Regions from separate parts of the Homo sapiens genome. Here region 2 is linked to region 1. The links come from fine-mapping of genetic effects on gene expression. A gene starts in region 1. The other region holds a variant in brackets. All regions are shown on one strand. Distances are between the middles of the regions.

Region 1 (12,035 bases):
GGTTCAAGCGATCCTCCTCCCTTGGGCTCTTATCGTGCTGGGATTACAGGTGTGAGCCACCGCACCCAGTTGCTTTTTTCTTTCTTTCTTTCTTTTTTTTTTTTTTGAGACAGAATCTCACACTGTTACCCAGGCTGGAATGCAACGGGGTGATCTTGGCTCACTACAACCTCTGCCTCCCAGGTTCAAGCGGTTCTCTTGCCTCAGCCTCCCAAGTAGCTAGGACTACAGGTGTGCGCCATCCTGCTCGGCTAATGTTTTCTATTTTTAGTAGAAACAGGGTTTCACCATGTTGGAGAGGCTGGTCTTGAACCCCTGACTTCAGGCGATCCGCCTGCCTCAGCCTCCCAAAGTGTTGGGATTACAGGTGTGAGCCACTGCGCCCAGCCGCTTTTTTTTTTTTTTGTCTGAAACATTTTTCTCTTCCATTTCTGAAAGACATTTTTGCTGAGTAAAGAACTCTAGGTTGATTTTTAAAAATCTTTCAGCAATCTGAAGACTTTTTTTCTTGGTTGAATAGTTTCTAATAACAAGTCTAATGTAATTCCTATCTTTGTTCTTTCCTGTGTATTATCTTTTTTTTCTGGCTGATATTAAGACTTTCGCCTGGTTTCAGCAATTTTACTATAATGTGCCTTGTTGTGGTTACAATTTTTTATTCTGCTTCGTGTTCTTTGAATGCCTTGAATTTGTGGGTTTATAGTTTTTATTAAATTTGGGACTATTTCAGCCATTATTTCTTCAAATCTCCCACGCTCCTTTTAATATAGGCAAATTCATTTTCAGTACCAAGATGACACCCTCCTGAGGACTAAGGACAAAATGTACAGATAGGTCTTTCCATTCGGCTGGTGAAAACAGGCACAATTTCCATTCATATGGGAGCTCTGGGAATTGTTTTTCCTGCCCTTTTTTGGTGGTTTGTTTTCCCAATTAGTTTCCAATTAGTCTCTTCTTAAATATGTGCAAATCAATGCTCATCCAAAGAAGCAAAAGGACCCCTCTGTAGATATTTGGAGTTGTATATACATATGTAGCTTTCCCCTTTCTGGTTCTCTGTCCTCCAAACTTTAGCTACGTCGGCCTCCCTGAAGCCTGATATTTGTCTCCTCAAGTCAGCAGTATTGCTGGGCTTTGGGCTCTGCCACTGCCTGTCCCATGGTCTGGAAACTGTTGCAAGGCAGTAGGCTGGGGCAATTAGATGGCTCAACTTGTTTACTTCTCTTACCTTAATCACTGTCCTACACTGTCTATTGTCCAATGTCTAAAAACCATTGTTTCATATATTTTGTCAGAAAACCATTATTATTTTTTTTCCAGATGTTTAAGAGGGAAGGATAAATCCAGTCCCCATGACTCAATTGTTGTCAGAGCAAATGTTCATACCTGGAAAGCATTTTAAAATACAGAGCCAAATTAATCTCTCAGAAATTCGGATCTAGTAGGTCTGGTGTGGAATTCTGGACTCTTTTACTTATTAAAAAGTACTGAGATGATTCTGATACACTGAGAGTGTTGTAAACCATATCTTGATACCTCAAGCAGAGCCTTGTTCAGACATTTTTTTTTTTTTACTGAGGGGGAAGGCAAGATCATTTCATATGAAAAACATTTCCTGGTTCTGAGTACGATGGGGGTACTTATAGCCAACCAATAATCCAGCTGAAAACAATTAGGAGAGCCAGCTAAAACATAAAACATCTGTTTGAAGGCTGCTGAGGCAACCAGAACTTATGAGGACACAATCTCAGAGAAGGGGAAACTATACATAGAGGTGAGCTGACATTCAGCAGTACCTTCATTCCTTGGGGAAATTCTGGGCATAAGGCCAGAGTCTGAGTTTTGGTTCTGAGTATAGAAAGAGGCCCTAACAGGCAAAGACACCACCAGGGATGATTCTGTCAGTTCAGCAGAGTTGGAGAGACAAACTTAAGAACAAGAGGGGCCAGATTCCCAGTGAGAAGGGAGGGGTAAATAATTGAGCCCAATAATGTCAGTCTCCCTCAAGTCATTTTCCAAATTCTGAAGATGCATGAGACAGAAGGTTAAGAAGCTTAGCAGAAAGGCTCTGAAAAGCAGAGTGAAGAGATTTTGACCGTCTCATGGTTTTGCAGAAACAAGAATTAGAGTTCAGTATCCACTGGGATGAAGGGTCCCAGGGAACACACACGACTCTCAGTTGGAACCCCTGGAGGCTTATGCTACTGGAGCAGCAGCAAAAAAGAGGTGAATTAAATCTTGCCAAAACCCAACCCCAAGTTAACTCAGTCTCTGGTTGATTAAGGTGGTTAGCTCTCACTCTAAATGCTTTGCAAAGGACAGTAGGAATCCTTCTCTGGATGATGATAATACTATCCAGAGCCTCTGCAATTTTTCATACTTGAAAGTGTGACATCCTATTAAAAATTCTCAGGCAAGCTAAGAGCCAGGAAAAAAAATGACCGAAACCAATGGAAAGAATATACAATAGAAATAGATCCACAGAAGATTCAGCTATTGTAATGATTGGAAAGAGCTTTAAAATATCTAGGGTTAAAAAAAAATCTAGGATTGATATGTTCAAGAAAATAAAGGCAACAGCAGAGAAAATACATATATAAATAAATAATTTCTCCAAATGAATTTGATTTTAAGAATCGTATGAAAATTCTAGAACTTAAAAATATAATAAACAAAATAAAGAATTCACAAATGGGTTTAAAAGTACACAATTAAATAGAAAATATACCGACTCATGCATAGAGAAAAAAATGGGGGAAAAAAGATGATAGGAAATACAGATGGTAAACAATGAAAAATTCTGACATATGTATAATTTAAACCCTAAAAGGAAAGGAGAGAGAAGAGACAGTGATCAAGAATTTCCTAAAAGATATAAACCCACAAATGCAAGGGACTCCGCATACACCCATTGCACTCATGAACCCAAGTAGGATAAATACAAAGAAAACCACATCTACACACGTCATAGTAAAGCTGTTGACAACCAAAGACAAGAAAAAATCCTAAAAGGAGTCAAAGGAAAAAAGACATTACTTTCAAAGGAATAAAAGGGAGTGACAGAAACCAGAAGACAATGGAAGAACATCTTCAAAGTGCTGGGAAAAAAAAACCAAAAAACAAAAAAAACTTGCCAAATCAGAATGCTATACCCAGCAAAAATATGAAGGATAATGCAAAGTTTTAGGCAATAAAACCCCACAAAAAACAAAAAGCAAAAACTCAAACAACCTTGGAGAGAACTTGTCATCAGCAGACCTGCTGTAAAACAGGGGAATTATTCAAATAGAAGGAAAACCTTCAGACAGAAGCACAGAAATGCATATTGGAATGAAGAGCAATATAAGGATAAATATGGAGGTTAATCTAAATGAGTACTTATTGTACAGAACAATAAGTATAAATTCTTGTGTGGCTTAAAATACACACACAATTAAAATCCTTGACGACAATAAACACAAAAGGGAGATGGGTAGGTGGAGATACAGTATTTTAATGTCTTAGCATTCCCGGGGAAGTGGTAAAAGTAATTATTTTGTATAAGATCATAAGTCAAAAAGCAATGTTGTAATCTCTAAAACTAGTAATGTATAATTTAAAAATTAATAGAGGGGGTTAATGATATAGTTAAAATATTTTAATTAATTCAAAAGAAGGCAAAAAGCAGAGAACAAGGAATGTGAAATAGGTGATCCAAAATAAATGGTAAGATGGTAGGCATACATCCACATATACCAGTAATTATATTAAATGTAAATGGACTAAAAATGTTTCCTGTTGAAACCAGGACAGAGCAAACTTCCAATTTCAGGCTGGCATGGACTCTGTATAAGACACAAGTACCAAGTACAAGTGAAAAGGCAGGGATTCCTAGAGCAAAATATGCAAGGGGGAAATAACCTTTAGTTGCCAGCTCCACAGGGCTGAATCGTGAGTAAAGTTTGAGCTAAGAAAAACTATCCTTTCAGAGTGCAGATTGCTTTTTAACTTGCAAATGATGAGGACTTTAATCCGTCTTTGTTGCAAGATTTTTATTTTGAGAAGACCTCCTGAATGTGCCATTTAGTTATGCAAATGTAAAGCAGAGACTCTTTATGGAAGCTGTGTGAAAAGCTCAACTGTGCTTTGTTGTTATAAATTGTTTTAAATTCTTGCTACTGTTTAATCCCCAGTTTGGTCTTTTCACAGGATGGCTGTGGCTAGTTTTCTTCCAAATTATCCAAAAGTAAACACAACTCATCTCTGTATTATTTTTCTTCTGAAGGCCACACACTCTAGTCTCACATGAAGAACTCATTGTCTTTGCATTAATATGACTTTATCTGCCCTCTTTGGGAAATAAAAATCTGCCTATTCTACTAAAAGAAAATACATATATATATATATATATATATTTTTTTTTTTTTTTTTTTTTTTTTTTTTCCTGGAGGTGATTTCATTACAAACAGGGACCATTTTACCTGAGAATGTGTCTATCTGATTCATCTAGGATGAAAGAGATCCTTTCTATTGGATTATCATGTATTCCAAATTTCTCTACTGCTTTGGAGATGGGGCTTGGAAGTAGGCGATGAATGGCAACTCAGTCAACCTCACTACATTACACTTCTGTTTCTGTCAGTGTCAGGATATTGATTAGGCTGGACCATGATCTGAAAAGTTACGTTATTCTTACTGAATGGTCCAGAGTCTACCGTATGGAGGGTAGGGCTATGGATTAGAGTGGAGACGGGATAGATAGAAAAGTTTGGGTTCCCTCTTGCTGTGTCTCTCAGGCTGGAGTGTAGTGGCGATCATAGTTCACTGCAGCCTGGAACTCCCGGGCTCAAGCAGGCCTCCCGAGTAGCTGGGCTACAGCAGCGCCCCGCCACAAACGGCTTTCTTAACGGCTTAAAAAATTGTTCATTCACGAGCAACATTTTTTTATTTTAAACCGCCTACTACAGTACTTGTACAACATTATTCTAGGTGCTGGAGATGCAGAGTCATTATAGGAGAGCATTTACCAGTGAATGTATTCGGAATATATATATATATATATATATATCACATGTAAGTGCAAAATGACTAGAGCAAATGATACTACTACAGAAGTTCAGAAAAGGAAGTCAGCATGGAAGTTAAGGCAGTGGGTGAGAGGGAGGCCCTTAAAAGCTAAAGCTGAGATAAAATGAGGTATTGCGGGCGACAGTCTAGGCGGGGTGTGTCGTATGGGGTTGGGGACAGGGCAGATAAAGGTCAGGCAGCAGGATACACGTCCATGTCAACGATTAAACATTTAGTGTCTTTTTCATGTCTACTGTCTTTCTAGTGAATGCAGAAAAAAAAAAAATGCATGACTTGGCCAGGTGCAGTGTCTCAGGCCTGTAATCCCAGCACTTTGGGAGGCCGAAGAGGGCGGATCACTTGAAGTCAGGAGTTCGAGACCAGCGGCCTGGCCAACATAGTGACACCCCGTCTCTACTAAAAATACAAAAATAAGCCAGGCGTGGTGGCGGGCGCCTGCAGTCCCAGCTACTCAGGAGGATGAGGTAGGAGAATCGCTTGAACCCAGGAGACGGAGGTTGCAGTGAGCCAAGATCGCACCACTTGCACTCCAGCCTGGGCAACAGAGCGACACTGTCTCAAAAAAAAAAAAAAAAGTATGACTCAGTCTCTGCATCAAAGAGTTTAAAGTAGATGAAAGGCAAGACAAAGAAACGTCCATACAGCCAGTAGTGGACAGGCAGGCCATGAAGAACCGCCTGCTCGTGGTTCCAACGCCCTAAGTATGGACAAGAGTTCCGCACAGGGCAAGAAGGGAAGACCGGCTTTGGAATAAGACAAATCTCAGTCCCAGGCTCAGGTGCGCGCCACATACTAGCTGTGTGACCTTGTCCAAGTCACACGACCCAGGTCTGTGGAGTCTCCCATAAAATGGCTCTAGTGAGCTCCAAGAACCCTCTCAGCTGCTGGGGGAGGGAAGAAATGAAGTCACTGCTGAAAGGGGTTAAGACGGGTGCTTCTGGTTCCACCCTCTCCCCAACTCTTCCCACCGACACAGGAGAGCCGTCGGGGGCTGAGGCGAGCTGCCAGGGGTGAGGACGGGAAGCCGCCTCCTCTCCGCCCCCCAGGCCCCGCCCTCGGGCTCCGGAAAGTCGCTGTGCAGGCAAATGAGTGGGGAGGGAGGGCTCACTAACTGTAAACAGACGCCGCCGAGAGTTCCCATCCTGCGTGGCTGCCGGATTTCCGTGCCACACTGAAGCCACCCCACCCAGACTCCTGCCCTCAGTTTCCCCAGCGGTGGCATGGGGTGCACCAGCTCCTCCTCTCCCGGGTCGCCGTCTGACTTAAACGCGTGAGACGGGAGAGGAGGAACCCCCGCTCCCCAGCCTCCAGCCCCACCAAGTCCTCCTCCTCCCCTGGCTTTGGCCTTTTGTACCGGCCCCACGTGACCCCGCCGGCCGGCTCTTCCCTGCTGCCCCGCCCCGCCCTCCGGCCTTTCCCGGCTCTCGGCCCAGCTCTTCCCGCTCTCGGCCGCCCCCCACCCGCGCTGCCGGGCCTCCGCCTCCCCTCGCCGCCCGCCCAGGCTCTTCCAGCTCCCTCCCCCAGGCCGCCGTTCCCTCGCGACGCTCCCCTCCCCCCGCGGCTGTTCCGCCGCCTTGCCTCCCCTCCCCCCGGCTGGAGCTCACTGTCTCCAAGATGGCGGCCGTGTCAGTTTGGGGCATCTCCGCGGTCCGGCCCGGGGCCCCGGGATCTCGGCTGTCCTTCCTCCCGGTAAGTAGCCGAGGGGCCGTTCCCGGCCGCCCCCGGCCGCCCAGCCCGAGGCCGAGCCGCTCCAGGGCCCACTCCGCTGCCTCGCGGGGTCGGCGGGCCGCTGCAGGCCCCGCCGCGGCCTGCGCCGCCTCCCGCTGCTCTGCGCCAGGCCTCGGGCTGGGGCGCCGTGGCCGCCCCCTCGCGCCCGCCCGCTCGCTCGCTCGCTTGCTCGCTTGTTCGGCGCCCGGCTGCCCCGGCCCGCGGCCCGCGCGCCGCCGCCCGGCCCCGCGCTCGCGGGCCCCGCGCCCCCGATCCCGCCGGCCGGGCCCGCCCTGGGGGAGCCGGCGGGTGGGCGGGCGGCGAGCGGCCCAGGCCGCGGAGCCTCGGGCTGGCGGAGCCGGCGAGCCCGCTCTCCCTCGGGGCGCGCCCACCCGCCCGCCGCGCGCGTGCCGGCTGTGCCGGGCCGGGCCGCTTCTCCCCGCGCTCGCGGGCGCTCGGGTTCGGGCTCGGGCTCGGGTTCCGGCTCCGGCTTTGGCTCCGGCCGGGGGCGCGGGGATCCGAGCGGGGCTGAGGCGGCGAGCGGGGCTGACAGGCCGGCGGGTGTTGTGGTGCGAGGCGCAGCACGTGTGGTGTTGTGTCTGCCGGGCTGTCAGCCCAGCCGCCGAGGGGAGGCCGGGCGCCTGTCAACCTCGCGGCTTGGCCCGGTGCGCGACTGTCAGGCTCCCAGCAACCCGCGCCGCCCTCGAGCCGGCCCCCAGAGCTTAGGGTGCGGAGCTGGGCCGGGGCTATGCACCGCTCTGAACTCCTTCACGTGATTTCATTGTTAACTTGTGCTCGGGGTCTGTTTCCATCGCGTGGAAACGGTGCAGCGCCCCGTCGGCGAGCTGCCGGGCTGTGCAGATCCAAGTTTTTAAAGTTTCTCGCTCTTTGAAAAGAGAGCGCGAAGACGTGTTTAGGGGTGGGGAATGGGGACGGGAAGGACTGTCGGAAGCGAGTTGCGCTCGCTCTAGCCGCTCGTGTACTTTCCGGGAGTTAAGATCCGAGGCTGCAGGCGCTTGACTTTCCGAAGACCTGGAGACTGATGACAATCCCGACTGGAAAGACAATGAGTGACTGTCACTCATTCTTTTACCTGCGAAGCTTAGTCAATTAGGACGTTCGTTCCCAGCTTGTTAAACTCAGGATGTAGCTTCTCATTTAGTTTAGACTTAATATCTGTATAATGAGCTTACTTGGAGTAATGATACTCTGATTTCTATCCTCTTGAGACCCTCACCAAATTGAAGCATGATTCTCCCAGGGGGCTTCTTTTTAGGCAGCTGATTTAAAAACAAATCTTGGCTCAGGTTTGAATGTTTGCTTCACTCTTTTCTTTCCTATCAGAGTTAATAGTAATATCTCTTTCCTAGTGTGTATTAGTTTTCCGTTTGATTTTAATGTCACTACCAAGAATAGTTGCTGTGGGAGCCATTTGTCTAGCATTGTTTATATTGTAATGCAAATGATCTCCAGAATGAGAGCAGAAGTTCTAAAAAACACTTCAGTTAAACTTATTTTTGGAGGCAAAAGAGTTAGATTCAGAATTCAGTACTTTAGTGATTAAACAAGATTGCATCTACCAGATTCTTTTATAGGGATACTGACTTTGATTCAGAGAGACAGTACATTTCTGTTTATGTTTTATTAATGTTCGTTTCAGGACAGCAATCTTGAATTTATATCTTTATTATTTGGGCTTCTCTTTAGTCCTACAAGTAGCCAGTGTATTTCTTTTTCTGTACCGTCCGTTTGATATGTAGTATGTGCGTTGACCCCAGTGATTCTGGGCCTTCCTCATTTCTAGTTTTCCTGTCTGAATTACTTACACGCAGTTTGACAGTTGTGACTCTCTTCAGCATATGAATAGAAACATCTTAGTTTGGGTTAGGAGAAGCTATCAGCATGTAATTCTTAAAATTTGAATGAAAGTGGATTATTGTTAAATTCAGTAAGCACTTTTACTCTAGGCTATTTTCAATAGTATTTTTGTTTCCATTAGGAGAGATTAAGGTAATACTGTACTTAAATTATAAACTGGGTGTGCATATTGTATTCATTCTTTTCATGTAAGAACTAAAATTTTCTCAGTCGTTTTCTGCCTTATTGACTGTTTTTGTCTACTCTGAATGTCTAGAATTTTGAAAGATGAAAGATTCACTTTTACTTTCATTGCAGGATTCTTTCTACTAATCCAGATACTTGTTGAAGTGCTGACTAGTTTCTTGGGGAAAGATGTCAAGGAAGAGTTGAAATTCCTAGACTGGTGAGCAGAGATTGCGGAGTACAGAATAGCCATCACCCACTCTGGTTAGTGGTAGCTTAAAGGTCATTCTTAGAACATGTCATCGTGTTTCCTCATTGTATCCTAATTACTCATCTTTTTTTTTTCTTTTCTTTTTTTTTCTTTTTTATCCCAATGGTTTACATACATGATTGTTTTGGAATATTAATAGATAAGTTTGGAAATTCTTAAGGGTGCCTAGTAAACACTTGCTGTTTGATTGCTTTATGATGAGGATGCTTATTTTCATTCGAAATAGGTCTTGGTAGAAAACTGACCTTATTTTCATTGCTTTTCAGGCATAAGATGCACATTTTTCTGCTCTGGAGCCGGGAATGAAATATTCTTGAGTTCTTACAACTTTATGACGAGACCCATGTGTGGTGCTATTGAGAAATTCATTGGGAAGTTGGAAGACATTTCAATCAACAGGTTGTTTTGGTTTCTATAGTACAATTGGGGTGGCATTCTGTTTTGTGAAAGGAGGAAGGACTTAGGCCAGAAAACTCATATGCTATGGTTAACTGGTTCCCAGCCTCCGAGAATCTTGTTTTCCATGGTGTAAAACTTACTCAGCATCAGGATAAGGGATAACGACTCTATGGATATACAGAATCCTTCACCATGGTAAAACTCGCAAACCCGCTTTATACTGAGTGGATTTTGGAGGCCATCAAAAAAGTGAAAAAGCAGAAACAGCGTCCTTCAGAAGAAAGGATATGCAATGCTGTGTCTTCATCCCATGGCTTGGATCGTAAAACTGTTTTAGAACAATTGGAGTTGAGTGTTAAAGATGGAACAATTTTAAAAGTCTCAAATAAAGGACTCAATTCCTATAAAGATCCTGATAATCCTGGGCGAATAGCACTTCCTAAGCCTCGGAACCATGGAAAATTGGATAATAAACAAAATGTGGATTGGAATAAACTGATAAAGCGGGCAGTTGAGGGCTTGGCAGAGTCTGGTGGCTCAACTTTGAAAAGCATTGAACGTTTTTTGAAAGGTCAGAAGGATGTGTCTGCATTATTCGGAGGCAGTGCTGCCTCTGGCTTTCACCAGCAGTTACGATTGGCTATCAAACGTGCCATTGGCCACGGCAGACTCCTTAAAGATGGACCTCTTTATCGGCTCAACACTAAAGCAACCAACGTGGATGGGAAAGAGAGTTGTGAGTCTCTTTCCTGTTTACCTCCAGTGTCCCTTCTTCCACATGAAAAGGATAAGGTAAGAATGGCATATGCTTCGGGGTTTATAGAGCTGATGATATAGGATGCTACAAATTCACATTTCTGGGAAGTTATATTCAAGTTTTTTGTTTGGGGACTTCTGTGGAGTGATCACCTCTGGTTTTTTATTGGTGAGTTGTAGCTATGAGAGCTTCATAGATTTGTTCTGGTACTTTGAAATATTTGAAGCCTAAGATTAAAAATGTAGAATGTTAATCTGACTAAAAGAACTTATTTACATTACAATGAAAAAGTGACATATGAGTTTAAAACTTTTTTTTAAATTTTTTTTTATTATTTTGCTTGAGGAGTACTCCAGCGTGAGACTTTAAAACTTTAACTAAAGGTTCTTAGAACACCTTACTACTGGAAGTTGATGAGCAGCCAAATCATGGAGACTTGAATTTGAAACAAGCAGATGACTCTGAGAACATTTTTCTGTTTTCCATTTTGTTGCAGATTACTCGTTAGACAGAAATGAGACAGATTCTCATGACCCATAGGCGCAACTAAGCAAACTTAGCAATTCTTGTTTCTGCTGTTTGTATTATAGCTTTCTGTCATGTATTATGGCTTTGCATATGATGAAGTCCTAAATGCTATTTATGACAGCTGTAGTTGCATGGGACAGGAATACAGTATCCTAAACTAGAAAAGTTCTGGAGGGTCTGGAACAGTAGTTCATGCCTGTAATCCCAGCGCTTTGGGAGGCTGGGACAGGAGGATGTCTTGAGCCTAGGAGTTTGAGCCCAGCCTGAGCAATATAGCGAGACCCCACGTCCACCAAAAATAGAAAAATTAGCCAGGTATGGGCGCGCCTGTAGTCCTAGCTACTTGGGAGGCTGTGTCGGGGAGGATTGCTTGAGTACAGGTGTCTGAGGCTCCAGTGAGCTATGCTGTCACCACTGCACTCCAGCCTGGACAACTGAGACCCTGTTCTAAAAACAAAAAGAAAGGTAAAGTTCTGGAGAGTTGGGAGTTTTGATGCCCAGATGTGTACTTTACTCTGTTGTGTTTTAGGATGTTATTGTATATAGTTGAAATTATGACTTCTTAAACAGTAAATTTTGGTGCTTAAATAGATATTTGGAGATTAGGAGAATTTTGTTAGTACCTGTTTTTTACATTGACCTAGTATCTTAGCTGTAAATTTACTTAAGGTGCTCTGAATTATAGTTCCTTGGAGAGCAGTGATGCTTTAAGTTGCTGCACACCTTGGTAGACATAAGTAAAATGATCTTCATTTTGCTTAAGATGATGGAGGATACTCCTAGGGTGGAAAGATGGTAAAGTTAACATTGAATGTATTTTGAAAATTGGAGATTTGATCTCAATTTGTTGTATTATTAGCAGCCCACTGAATACCTGTAGATTTTTCTTTAACAATTGAAAATTAACGGTATTTTTCTTTGATGAAATTTTTAGAGATCTATTTCAGGGTTCAATTTTCCCTGTGAACATTGAAATAAAACATAATCTTACTGTTATTACCCTTGAAATGATTCTCATACAGTCATGAATTGATAGAGAATCTCATTCATAAAATGGCTCTATGTAATTTGAGCATTTATTAAAAGTATATATTAAAAATTCAGGGTAGACAAGTAATTAAAATGCTTTATTCTATATTTAAGTGCTGTAAGAACTCTTACCTGTAGAAACTTTATCACATGTGGCTGAATTTAAATACAGTTATCGGATTTCTACAATTATTAAATGATCTAACAGGTTAACTGCCTGGAAACAGGAAATAA
Region 2 (12,035 bases), 82 kb after region 1:
GAAGTGGTGGACTACTCTGAGCAATATCGAATCAGAAAGAGGGGCAACAGGAAATCAAGCACTTCAGATTGGCCCACAGGTAAGAGTTTAGAACAGACTTAGAAACAAATAGTATTCTGTACATGTATTATTCGGGATAACACTAATTATCTATAATGGATTTATATTTGATTATTAACAATTGGTTATAGAATATAAGAACACATTGAAAAAACATGTAGATGATACTGAGGTGATAACTGTGGCAGGAATTTAGAGGATGGAAATAAAGTTGCAGAATGGGACAGTAGGAACTCTTAGGCAAAAGGAAGCTGCTTTTTTGTAGAACCACAAAGAATCTGCCTAGAGAAACTTGGGGTGTAACCTTGAGGATTACTTTACATTTCACAAATTACTAAAGAAATCATATGGTGAATGTTATGATGCCTGCTTATTCCAGGAAGGAAACTGGAAAGAATAGAACTGGGTGAAATGCTGTTGATCTAAGCATAAAAAAAAGACCAAAATATTTGCAGATGTGATGAGGTCATTGACTTTTCTACTTCAGATCTTGACAAATATAGTTGTAAGTCATGGATTGCACTTAAAAAGGGAGAGACAGAACCACAGCTCCAGGCTGCTTATGTATCAGGCTAAGTTCCCTAATTTTCAAAGTAGAAAACATCTGTGGAGAGGACTTAATAATGTGGCAAATCATTCAAGTCAGAGGAGAAGAATTTGATTAACTGTCCAATAAATTAAAGCTTAAAATAGTCTTATTGCTGAGCCTTGAATTTAGAGATACTAACCCTGTGAAGGAAGTAGAAAGGGCTTGAAGAAAGTAGAATGAGAATGAACTCTTTTGGACCACAAGGGCCAGAGGTGTAGTGTCTCATCTACTACAAGAGAATTCCCTGACCTTGGTTTCCTCCCTGAATGTCTCCTTGGTGAGGGAGAGTGTATTCACTGCTCTCATTCGTGGTTGATTGTCCAGTGCAGGAGAGAAAGTCCTTGTAATTGTCAGAGTCCCCTTTGTATGCTTTATTGATTGGTCTTTTACCATAGTGATGATCAACTAATTACTCTTTAAGCATTCAAGACTCTTCATGTCTTTATCAACCTGTAGATAAGTTCCTGATCTGAGCATGTTTATCTAAGAAAATATGCAATCCGTTTAGATTAAACTAGGAAAGAATCTCAGAGCAAATCCTAATGAAAGACATTTTTGAATTAACCATTTGTACTGGAGACGGTTTATTAGAAGAATCTACTAGAAAGCTTTTGAAATAGAAATTGTTAGAGCAAGTGTATCAAGTATATGGAGAACCAATATTGAATTTTTGACAGTGGTGTGAGCGTTTGCTTTAATAGGCTCTGTCATTTTCTTTATGAATTATAAAGTTTAAGTACCGAATGCTGTATTAGAGAGGTGCATGCATCATGCACTAGGGGGCATTAAAGTCACATAGTACCTTTAGATTGTACTTTTTTCTTCCAGTTTGAGAATGTTGTCAACAGTGAGTCCTTGACTTTTTTCTTCTTGTGTTAAGTTAATAACAGATGGCCCATATGTGCAGTTGACTTGAGAACTGTCACCAATTGGTCTTTTCAGCCATACTTATAAAGAGAGCAAATGAGCCCAACAGCAGTGTCATCTTCAAATGCAAAGGATAATGATCTTCATAAGTCCCAAATACTCTCTTCACTAGTTTTTTGCCAACTTGAGGAAGTTCCATCATTTAGTAGATAATTATCATACGTTTTCATATTTACCCAGATGATTATCATCTGGGTAAATAGAGTTTGTGCTTTAAAAGGACAGTGTTTTAAAGTTTGTGCTTTAACTTTAAAAGGGCACCCAGAATGTGATGGGAGTTAGTACTGCTGACATCAGTTAAGGTAGCTACTCAAGAGGTTTTTTTGAACGTTGATGCATTAAACCTATACTAAAAGTGTCAAATTTATACTATTTCAAAATGAAATTTATATTCCTTATATCATTTTTCTGTCTGCCTTTCTGTGTATTAAAATGTAATCTTTAATGAAGTTTAAATTTAGTTATATAATATTTTTAGGAAGCTTTAAGACAATTCAGGATTTCCACTATAAGGCAGATTTAATACATAAATATTATTTATTGAGTAGCATTCTTCTAAGAGTCAGTTTAATGCTATATTCTTCGTTATATATTAAGTTCTTCAAATTGAAATAAAGACCTGAAATTTTTTCTAGTTCATGTATTAATCTGGGGACAGTTAACATGTGAGCTCTTTTTTTATATGTAGACAATCAGGATGGCTGGGATGGCAAACAAGAAAATGAGGAGCGACTTTTTGGGAGCCAGGAAATCATGACTGAGAAAGATATGGAATTATTTCGTGATATCCAAGAACAAGCACTGCAGGTAAAGTTGGATATTCAGGTTAGACAATCAAGCAACTTGTTCATGGCTGAGAAACAGCAGATTAATTACATTGTGGGTTAAGCAGTAACAGCAGTTTGCCTAATCTCAGAATAGTTGTGGTTTGTGTGTATATGTAGTTCTGCTGTTTATAATATTCCTTTCAAACCCATGATAACTGCTTTGGTTTTGCAGATAAGCACATGGCTTTGACTATCAATATTAAATAAGCTTGGTTTATTTTTTGTCTTACTGTATGAAGAAGAATTTGGGATTTGACCAAAAACAAACAAAAAACAAGCTTCTCATGAGTGATAAAACACCTATATTTATTAATTCAAGAAGTATTTCATGCCTGTAATCCTAGCACTTTGCCAAGGTGGGTGGATTGCTTGAGTCTGGGAGTTTGAGACCAGCTGGGGCAAAATGGCAAAACCCCATCTCAAAAAAAAAATAGAAAAATTAGCCAGGTATGTTGGTGCACACCTGTAGTCACAGCTATTTAGGAGGCTGAGGCAGGAGAATTGCTTGAGCTGGGGAAATGGAGGTTGCAGTGACCTGAGATCATGCCACTGTACTCCAGCCTGGGTGACAGAGTGAGACCCTGTCTTCCAAAAAAAAAAAAATTGCAATTCTTTGTGACACATGGCAAGATCGTAAATATATAGACAGAGTCTATGTGCCACATGCTGGAGATGCCAGTGAATGACTGAATTCTTTCCCTGAACTATAGGAGAGATTTGTGAATAAGTAATGTCATTAATATGAAAAGTTCAATTATAGAATACTTGATGTTTTGGGAGAATAGGGAAGCCAGCTTCTACTTCTGCCTGGGGAGGTCAGAGGAGGATTCATTGAGGGGCCTTAAAGGATATGTAGGAGTTGTACATATCCCTTAAAGGGATATGTAGGGAGTTGGTTCTTATATAATCAGAAGGAACAGAAGTGAAGGTGGAATAGACTTGAAGATAGGGGAAAACATGCTTAATTGTGGGAATTAAAATGGCTCAGGATAAAGAATATAGGGTGTGGAGAATGGCAGGAGGTGAGGTTGGAAAAGTGCAGGGGCTAGATCATAAAGGCTCTTCCAGATTATGTTCATTTATTTTTTGTCTTTTCCTTCTTTGCCACCAACAAATGTACCATGTAAGCCAAGTTCTCTTTTATCTTGAAAAGAAGAATTTCTAGGCTGGGCACGGTGGCTCACCCCTGTAATCCCAGCACATTGGGAGGCCGAGGCGGGTGGATCACTTGAGGTCAGGAATTCGAGACCAGCCTGGCCAGCATGGTGAAACCCCGTCTCTACTAAAAATACAAAAATTAGCCGGTGGCACACGCCTGTGGTCCCAGCTACTCGGGAGGCTGAGGCAGAAGAATCACTTGAATCCGGGAGGTGGAGGTTGCAGTGAGCCGAGATCGTGCCACACCACTCCAGCCTGGGCAACAGAGTGAGACTCCATCTCAAAAAAAAAAAAAAATTCTAAGGCTGATGCCGAGGGTTCTAGGGAAAACTCTTCATATTAAGAGACCCAGTGGTGGTGAATAGACTGTTGATGTCGGTCATTATGTGAGTACTTTTGGAAAAATAAAACAGCAGTACAAATACTCAGCACGCATTTACTCAGCATTCTGCTGTATTATGATTTAACAAAATATTGGCTTTGATTCAGGTGGATCTGGGTTCAAGTCTTGATCTGTCATTTACTAACTTCTCCTTTGGGCAGGTTGCCCTCAAAGCTTGTTTCCTTTCATGCTAGTGAGTTATTATAGGTACTCTAGTAGAAATCTACATGGACTTCAGTGGGAACTGAAAGGAGGCAGTAGTTATGTTCTTCCTGACTGAAAGAATTTTTTTTTCTCCTCCCGAGTAAGTTGCAGACATAATGTGTTAATATCCCTTTACTCCTAATTTTTTGTGTGTATTTCCTAAAAACAGAAATGTTCTCATACATGACCATGGTCCAATCATCAAATCAGGAATTTAACACAAATTAAGTACTATTATCTAATTTAGTTGTCACGTCTCTCTAGTCTCCTTCCAATTGGGAACAGTTCCTCAGTCTTTATCTTTCATGACCTTGACAGTTTTGAAGTGCACAGGTCATTTATAGAATGTCATCACTTTGAGCTTGTTTTATTTTTCATGATTAGAAAATTCCACAGGTGTGCTGTGTCCTCCTCAGTGTGTCACATCAGAAGGCATGTAATATCCAAGTTCTCATCACAAGTGCTGCTAACAGTGACCACCTGGTTTAGGTGGTATCCATGTTTCTTCTCTAACATTGCTTTCTACCTATAATTAAGTATCTTGGGGGGACATACTTTGAGACAGAAATGCAGATAACCTGTTTTTCATCAAACTTTTATCTACCACATTTAGCATCCAGAGATGATTTTTGCCTGAATCATTTACTTTGTTGGTGGCCAAACATTATTTTCTAATTCTATCATTTCTTTGCCATTTATTAATTGGCATTCTATTGTAAGGAGAAGCTTTTTCTTCTTCCTATTTGTTTATTCATTTTGTTTAAACTCATAGATTATTTTATGGTTATAATCCATTGCTATTAGTATTTATTTTGATGCTTAAATTGTTCCAAATTTAGGCAGAGGGGAACTCCTTTCTAGAAGCTCCTCTGTCCTTTTAACACATCATCATCATTTTTATTTACTTCTGGCCACAGCAAGATGTTCTAGGCTCTTACTGTTGTAGCCATAGATTCTGGCTTTTAGTGGTGAACAAGAGTAAATGGTAGCTCTATCCTGTACTTGCTTAGGCCCACAGAGATGTCATCTTGATTTTTTTTTTCTCTGTCATACTTCACATTCAGTCCATCAGCAAATCCTAATGGTTCTGCCTTCAGAATATGTCTGTATTTGCTACTGCCAACCCACTGTCATCTCTGGCTTAGGCTGCTATAATTGCCTCCAGACTAAACTTGCTTCTGCTTTTGCCACCACCCCACTCTCTAGTCTATTTTCTTCATACAGCGGCCAGGGTAATTATTTTTGAACGTAGGTTGGATTATACCACTTCCTTGCTTAGAAAACCTTTCATGTCTTACAGTCTTCTTTAGAATTAAAAAAAAAAAAAAAGAGTCTGTTCTCTCATCTCCAAGGCTGTATATGATTTTGTGCCTGCCTCCCTCTTTGGCTGCTCTTTTTGCTCTCAGGCTACTCCAGCCACAGCCGCCTCCTCTTCCTCAGACACACCAAGCATGCCTGCCTTGGGCCTTTGCAGTCGCTGCACCTTGCCTCGATGGCCCTTCCTCTAGAGTCGATGATTTAGTAGGTTCACTGCCCATTCCATTTAGGTCTTGCTCATATCCACACGAAAATAGCTTACAGCCCATTGTGTCACTCTATCCCCTGACCTGCCTGCTTTTTCTGCATAGTACCTACCACCTCTTGAATTTAAATTTTTTATTTCTAGAATGTAAGTGCCTTGAGAACGAGGCCTTTCTTTTTTTTTTTTTTTTTAAATTATACCTTAAGTTTTAGGGTACATGTGCACAACGTGCAGGTTTGTTAC[G/A]TATATGTATACATGTGCCATGTTGGTGTGCTGCACCCATTAACTCGTCATTTACATTAGATATATCTCCTAATGCTATCCCTCCCCCCTCCTCCCACCCCACAACAGGCCCCGGTGTGTGATGTTCCCCTTCCTGTGTCCATGTGTTCTCATTGTTCAGTTCCCACCTATGAGTGAGAACATGCGGTGTTTGGTTTTTTTGTCCTTACAATAATTTGCTGAGAATGATGATTTCCAGCTTCATCCATGTCCCTACAAAGAACATAAACTCATCCTTTTTTATGGCTGCATAGTATTCCCTGGTGTATATGTGCCACATTTTCTTAATCCAGTCTATCATTTCTGGACATTTGGGTTGGTTCCAAGTCTTTGCTATTGTGAATAGTGCCGCAATAAACATACATGTGCATGTGTCTTTATAGCAGCATGATTTATAATCCTTTGGGTATACACCCAGTAATGGGATGACTGGGTCAAATGGTATTTCTAGTTCTAGATCCTTGCGGATTCGCCACACTGTCTTCCATGATTCTTGAACTAGTTTGCAGTCCCACCAACAGTGTAAAAGTGAGAACGAGGCCTTTCTTTTTGGTCACTGCTATCTACTGAGTACTTGGAATATAGTAAAGGCTCAGTAAATATTTGTTTAATGAATGGATATTGAATGAAATTTTCTTCTGGGAGAAATGGGGCAGGAGTTGAAATAATAGAAAGGTGCAAGAAGGATGACCAAAGAGAGTTAAACGGGTTGCTGAGCCCTGCTGAGGCTCGGGGAGACAGTGTAAATGCTTATTGACAGTAATCGGGCTAATCCTATGTTTCTTTCCAGCATTTGATTAAACTCAGCATTGTCTGTGTGTGTATTGGCACCAAGGAAATAAACAGCTAGATCTTGGAAGTCTAGTTCATGCTTATTTTTGTTGGCAGTGCACTGAAATTCTGATGATGGTGCTATTTCTCCATGAGGCTTATTCATTTAGCATCATGCACCTGCCTTGGTACCAGAACTATAGGGCAAACAAAAAGACACAGACTCTGCCTTCATGAAGCTTTTAGTTTCACAAACAGACAGATAATAAACACTCATAAAAATAAAACTGTACTTACAAACTGATAGTCGGAAGGAAATGAGAATGCAGTGAGGGGTTCTGACGGGCTGGGCTACCTTGCTGAGGGTTGGGGTTGGAGTGTTTATGAGAAGGGAAGACTTTTGAAGAAGTAACAATTTATACATAGTTCCAAAAGAGTATTCAAAAGTCAGCAGAGTAAAGAGCTAGAGAAGAACATTTCAGAGACAAGTGGATTGCCTATGTAAACGTCTAAGGGTGTGAAAGAGGTTGATAAACTTAAGGAACTGAAGTTCAGTGTAACTCAAATACAGTGAACAGAAGAGTTGCATAAGGTGAAGCTGGGGAAATAGACTGAGGCCAGAAGTTAGAATTGGGGTTTTTATCATAATTGCAGTGGGAAGACATTGAATGGTTTTTAGCAAGGAAACAGCAAGATCTGTTTCATTAAAAAATGGTTTTTCTTGGCTACTACATAAAGAGTGGTTTAGAATTAAGCAAGAGTGGAAGCTGGGAAACCACTTTGCAGGCTTTTCCGGTGATCAGGATGAGAGAAGATGTTAGCTAGGACTAGAGGGGTGGTGGTAGAAATGGGAGAGAAGTGGATGGATTTAGATATATTTTGGAGTTGGAATCAGCAGAACTTAGTGATGAGTTTTATGTGTAGCTTGAGGAAGCAAGAGATGATCAAAGATGACTTCCAGGTTCTCTGACTTAATTTAATAAAGAAAGTGGTTTGAAGCCACTTGGGAAAGTTCATGTTGACTAGATAAGAGGACATTTTGAATAATGAAAGGATTCATAAATATAGTGCAGAAAGTCATTTTTGAGAGCATAGATATAGCTTAGATGATGCTTGAACCTGTGTTTCAAAAATTTTGCAGGTAGATTTTATTACAGTGTCTTTGGTAGTCTTACAGCAGCATCAGCAAAAGACATGATAAAGGAATTAATATTAGAATCCATCCAACTAATAACACATTGTTTATTGAGTGCCTGCTATGTTCTAGAAACTATGGTACGGGGAGGGGCTATCAGAAGGACATAGTTTCTGTTCTCTTAGAGCTTATAGTCTGGAAGGGACTATCTTGAATAATCAAACTTTGCATGGAACATTATCTAAGTCAAAGATAATTGAAATATTTAGCAAGATTTTTTTCAAAAGGAGTCAGCCACTTATTGGTTTTAATTTTTTTAAAAAATTATTGCAGGCAGTAGGGTAAGTATGGATGTAGTTTGCCTAGTACTGTGTTCCATCATTAGCTATACAACATACACTTCCATGAAAAAGAGCCACCTCTGAATACAAAAGTGGAAGCATAAAAAAATTAGTAGTATAGGTTTTTGTTCTAGAATTTTATTTCAACTATGATCTTACGAGCTTGGAGAAACTATTTTTCTTAAAAGACTCTGTCAGTAGAAAGAAGCATTTGTGTGCATGTGTCTTTATAGCAGCATGATTTATAGTCCTTTGGGTATATACCCAGTAATGGGATGGCTGGGTCAAATGGTATTTCTAGCTCTAGATCCCTGAGGAATCGCCACACTGACTTCCACAGTGGTTGAACTAGTTTACAGTCCCACCAACAGTGTAAAAGTGTTCCTATTTCTCCACATCCTCTCCAGCACCTGTTGTTTCCTGACTTTTTAATGATTGCCATTCTAACTGGTGTGAGATGATATCTCACTGTGGTTTTGATTTGCATTTCTCTGATGGCCAGTGATGGTGAGCATTTTTTCATGTGTTTTTTGGCTGCATAAATGTCTTCTTTTGAGAAGTGTCTGTTCATGTCCTTTGCCCACTTTTTCATGGGGTTGTTTGTTTTTTTCTTGTAAATTTGTTTGAGTTCATTGTAGATTCTGTATATTAGCCCTTTGTCAGAAGAGTAGGTTGCAAAAATTTTGTCCCATTTTGTGGGTTGCCTGTTCACTCTGATGGTAGTTTCTTTTGCTGTGCAGAAGCTCTTTAGTTTAATTAGATCCCATTTGTCAATTTTGGCTTTTGTTGCCGTTGCTTTTGGTGTTTTAGACATGAAGTCCTTGCCCATGCCTATGTCCTGAATGGTAATGCCTAGGTTTTCTTCTAGGGTTTTTATGGTTTTAGGTCTAACGTTTAAGTCTTTAATCCATCTTGAATTGATTTTTGTATAAGGTGTAAGGAAGGGATCCAGTTTCAGCTTTCTACATATGGGTAGCCAGTTTTCCCAGCACCATTTATTAAATAGGGAATCCTTTCCCCATTGCTTGTTTTTCTCAGGTTTGTCAAAGATCAGATAGTTGTAGATATGCGACGTTATTTCTGAGGGCTCTGTTCTGTTCCATTGATCTATATCTCTGTCACATGCACACGTATGTTTATTGTGGCACTATTCACAATAGCAAAGACTTGGAACCAACCCAAATGTCCAACAATGATAGACCGGGTTAAGAAAATGCGGCACATATACACCATGGAATACTATGTAGCCATAAAAAATGATGAGTTCATGTCCTTTGTAGGGACATGGATGAAATTGGAAATCATCATTCTCAGTAAACTATCGCAAGAACAAAAAACCAAACACTGCATATTCTCACTCATAGGTGGGAATTGAACAGTGAGAACACATGGACACAGGAAGGGGAACATCACACTCTGAGGACTGTTGTGGGGTGGGGGGAGGGAGGAGGGATAGCATTGGGAGATATACCTAATGCTAGATGACGAGTTAGTGGGTGCAGCGCACCAGCATGTCACATGTATACATATGTAACTAACCTGCACATTGTGCACATGTACCCTAAAACTTAAAGTATAATAAAAATAAATAAATAAATAAATAAATAAATAAATTTTTTTTTTTAAAAAAAGAAAGACGCGTTTGTATTCAGTTCATTCCAGTGGAGCATGACCACCTTCTTGAAATATATAGAATGATTTTTACATAAAATATCAAAGAGCACATTGTATTTTCATACAGATTTTAATGCTTTCTGATTCTGAAGGATTCCTTTGGTTTTTGTATGGTTCTGGAAAGTTACAGAGCATTTTTGAAATCTGTGCGGGTTATTAAAATTTCTTTGCGTGAAGAGTTAAATCATTATTAAAAATACAGTAAGCTAGTTTCAACAACTTTATTAACCCCATGATGTAGAGGTGTTACCCCATTTTACATATGAGGAAACCAACACTATTAGTTCAGTGACTTCCTGTAAGTTTTTATGTTAGTGGAGCCGAAATTAAAACTTAGGCCATGTGACTTCTAATTCTGTACCCTTAATCACAATAACATCCTGCATTATTCTGTATACGGGATGTCATGGGGGTAGCAAAATCATTAGGCATGTGCTAAGTGCAGGCAGGTAAAGGTGCATAGGAAGATACACAGCAGACAATAGCTTAGAGTACCAATGAAACATAGTGCATTGCTGTATTAAATGATTCAGACTTGTCTCAGATGTTCACAGTATACTAAGATGTGTGAGAATTGGCGCAACCTGAGATGATCACAGAAGCAGCAGTCCTAAGGAATGATGAGGATTTAGGTAGATGGAGAGAACTAGGGCTTATCAGATGGAGTAAACAACATTAACTTCAGCTTTGAGGAAGCAATGACTACTATACAGGAGTCCCCGCGTATCCACCAGTGATACGCTCCAAGATCCCCAGTAGATGCCTGAAACCGTGGACTGTACTGAACCCTGTATGTACTGTATTGTGTTACATGAATGTAGTCTGTCTCTCTCTAAATCTCTTATTGTACTATTGTACTGTACTAACTCTTCTGACGGTGTGAGATGATAAAATTTGCACCGAGGCTGACGACAGGTAACTAGAACCTCGAAAAGCAAAGCTGGGGATAAGGGGAGACTACTATAAATAATTCCAGCTGGAGGGCAAAGACGTATTATCTGTGTATTCCAAGAACCTGCCACTGAGATAGCAAGCAGAAGCTCACATTTATTTGGCACTCACTGCATGAATGGCATAGTGCTGTAAGTTCTGTGCAAATATCAACTCGTTTAAGCTTTTCAACAAATCTGATAGTGACTTGCCCAACTAAGGTGATTCAGCCGAGATAGGATTTGAACTGTGCTAGCCTTTTCTAGTTCCCAGGCTCTTAACTACTATTTTAATAAGTTGTGCTAAATTATCCAATGAACTAAAAATACATCTATGCGGCCTTTAATATGTGACTTATATTTAATGGGTAAATGCCTTAACACAGTAAACATCGCCCCACCTACCATTCCTACTTTCAGCAGCATCAAGGAGACATCACTTAACAGCAAAAAGATGTCATGGGGGTACCTTAAAATCCCGTCATGCCGAAACTGACATCTTGTTACTAGCTTTCAAAATGCTCCAAAATGCAGCTTAATACTAGTAATTCAGTGTATTACCATTGCCCAACAGATGTTCCACCCTGTCTTATCTCAAACTAAACTCCAGCTATTCCTCACTTTGCATGGTGCAATGTTAACTGAAACCCATGCTTATCAAACTAAAGTAGATTGAAGGAACAGGAGATGATCAAAGATGACTTCCAGGTTCTCTGACGCTGTAATAAAAAAAGTGGTTTGAAGCCAGTTGGGAAAGTTCATCTTGGCTAGATAAGAGGATGTTTTGAATAATAAAAAGACTCATAAAGGTAATGCAGAAAGTCATTTTTGAGGGCATAGATACAGCTTAGAAACTGCTTCACCTGTGTTAGGGTTGGCAAAATATGGCCTGTGGCCCAGTCCCATCCACAGCCTGTTTTGTATGACCTGCAAGCTGAGGATGGTTTTAATATTTTTAAACAGTTGGACAAAAATAAAAAGAATAATATTTATGGACATGTGAAAATTATGTGAAAAATGTTAGCGTTCGTAAATAAAGTTTTATTACAACATACAAAAAACCCATGCATATCAGAACTAAGGTCAAATCTGTCACCTCAGAAGCACGGACACAATTCTGATGTGTACCTGTTTCCATTAACACAGTGCCATCAAAAACAAGGACTGCCTGTCTTACAACACCTTTATGGGCAGATACTGTGTTTTCTATATCATCTCCACAGTGTGACTTGCA

Evidence for each region. PIP is the estimated chance that this variant, and not a neighbour inherited with it, causes the effect.
Region 2: its variant is the best candidate, but not a certain one, in a credible set for the expression of KAT6A in whole blood (TOPMed, PIP 0.72).

Annotation. Positions count from the first base shown.
Region 1 is chr8:42,046,622-42,058,656 of GRCh38, reverse strand. It overlaps KAT6A (lysine acetyltransferase 6A), which reads left to right and starts at 6,670. Exons shown (of 17, transcript NM_006766.5): 1 at 6,670-6,756; 2 at 9,355-10,279. The coding sequence starts at 9,680. KAT6A-AS1 (KAT6A antisense RNA 1) reads right to left here and starts at 6,907. Exons shown (of 2, transcript NR_136589.1): 1 at 6,672-6,907. RefSeq lists silencers at 3,772-4,066, 6,027-6,186, 6,377-7,006, 7,107-7,576 and enhancers at 5,536-6,056, 6,057-6,578.
Region 2 is chr8:41,965,052-41,977,086 of GRCh38, reverse strand. KAT6A (lysine acetyltransferase 6A) reads left to right here. Exons shown (of 17, transcript NM_006766.5): 7 at 1-79; 8 at 2,265-2,383. Among named protein-coding and RNA genes, the nearest start is that of KAT6A-AS1, 81 kb to the left of the region's middle. The variant G/A (reference allele first, on the strand shown) is at 5,913.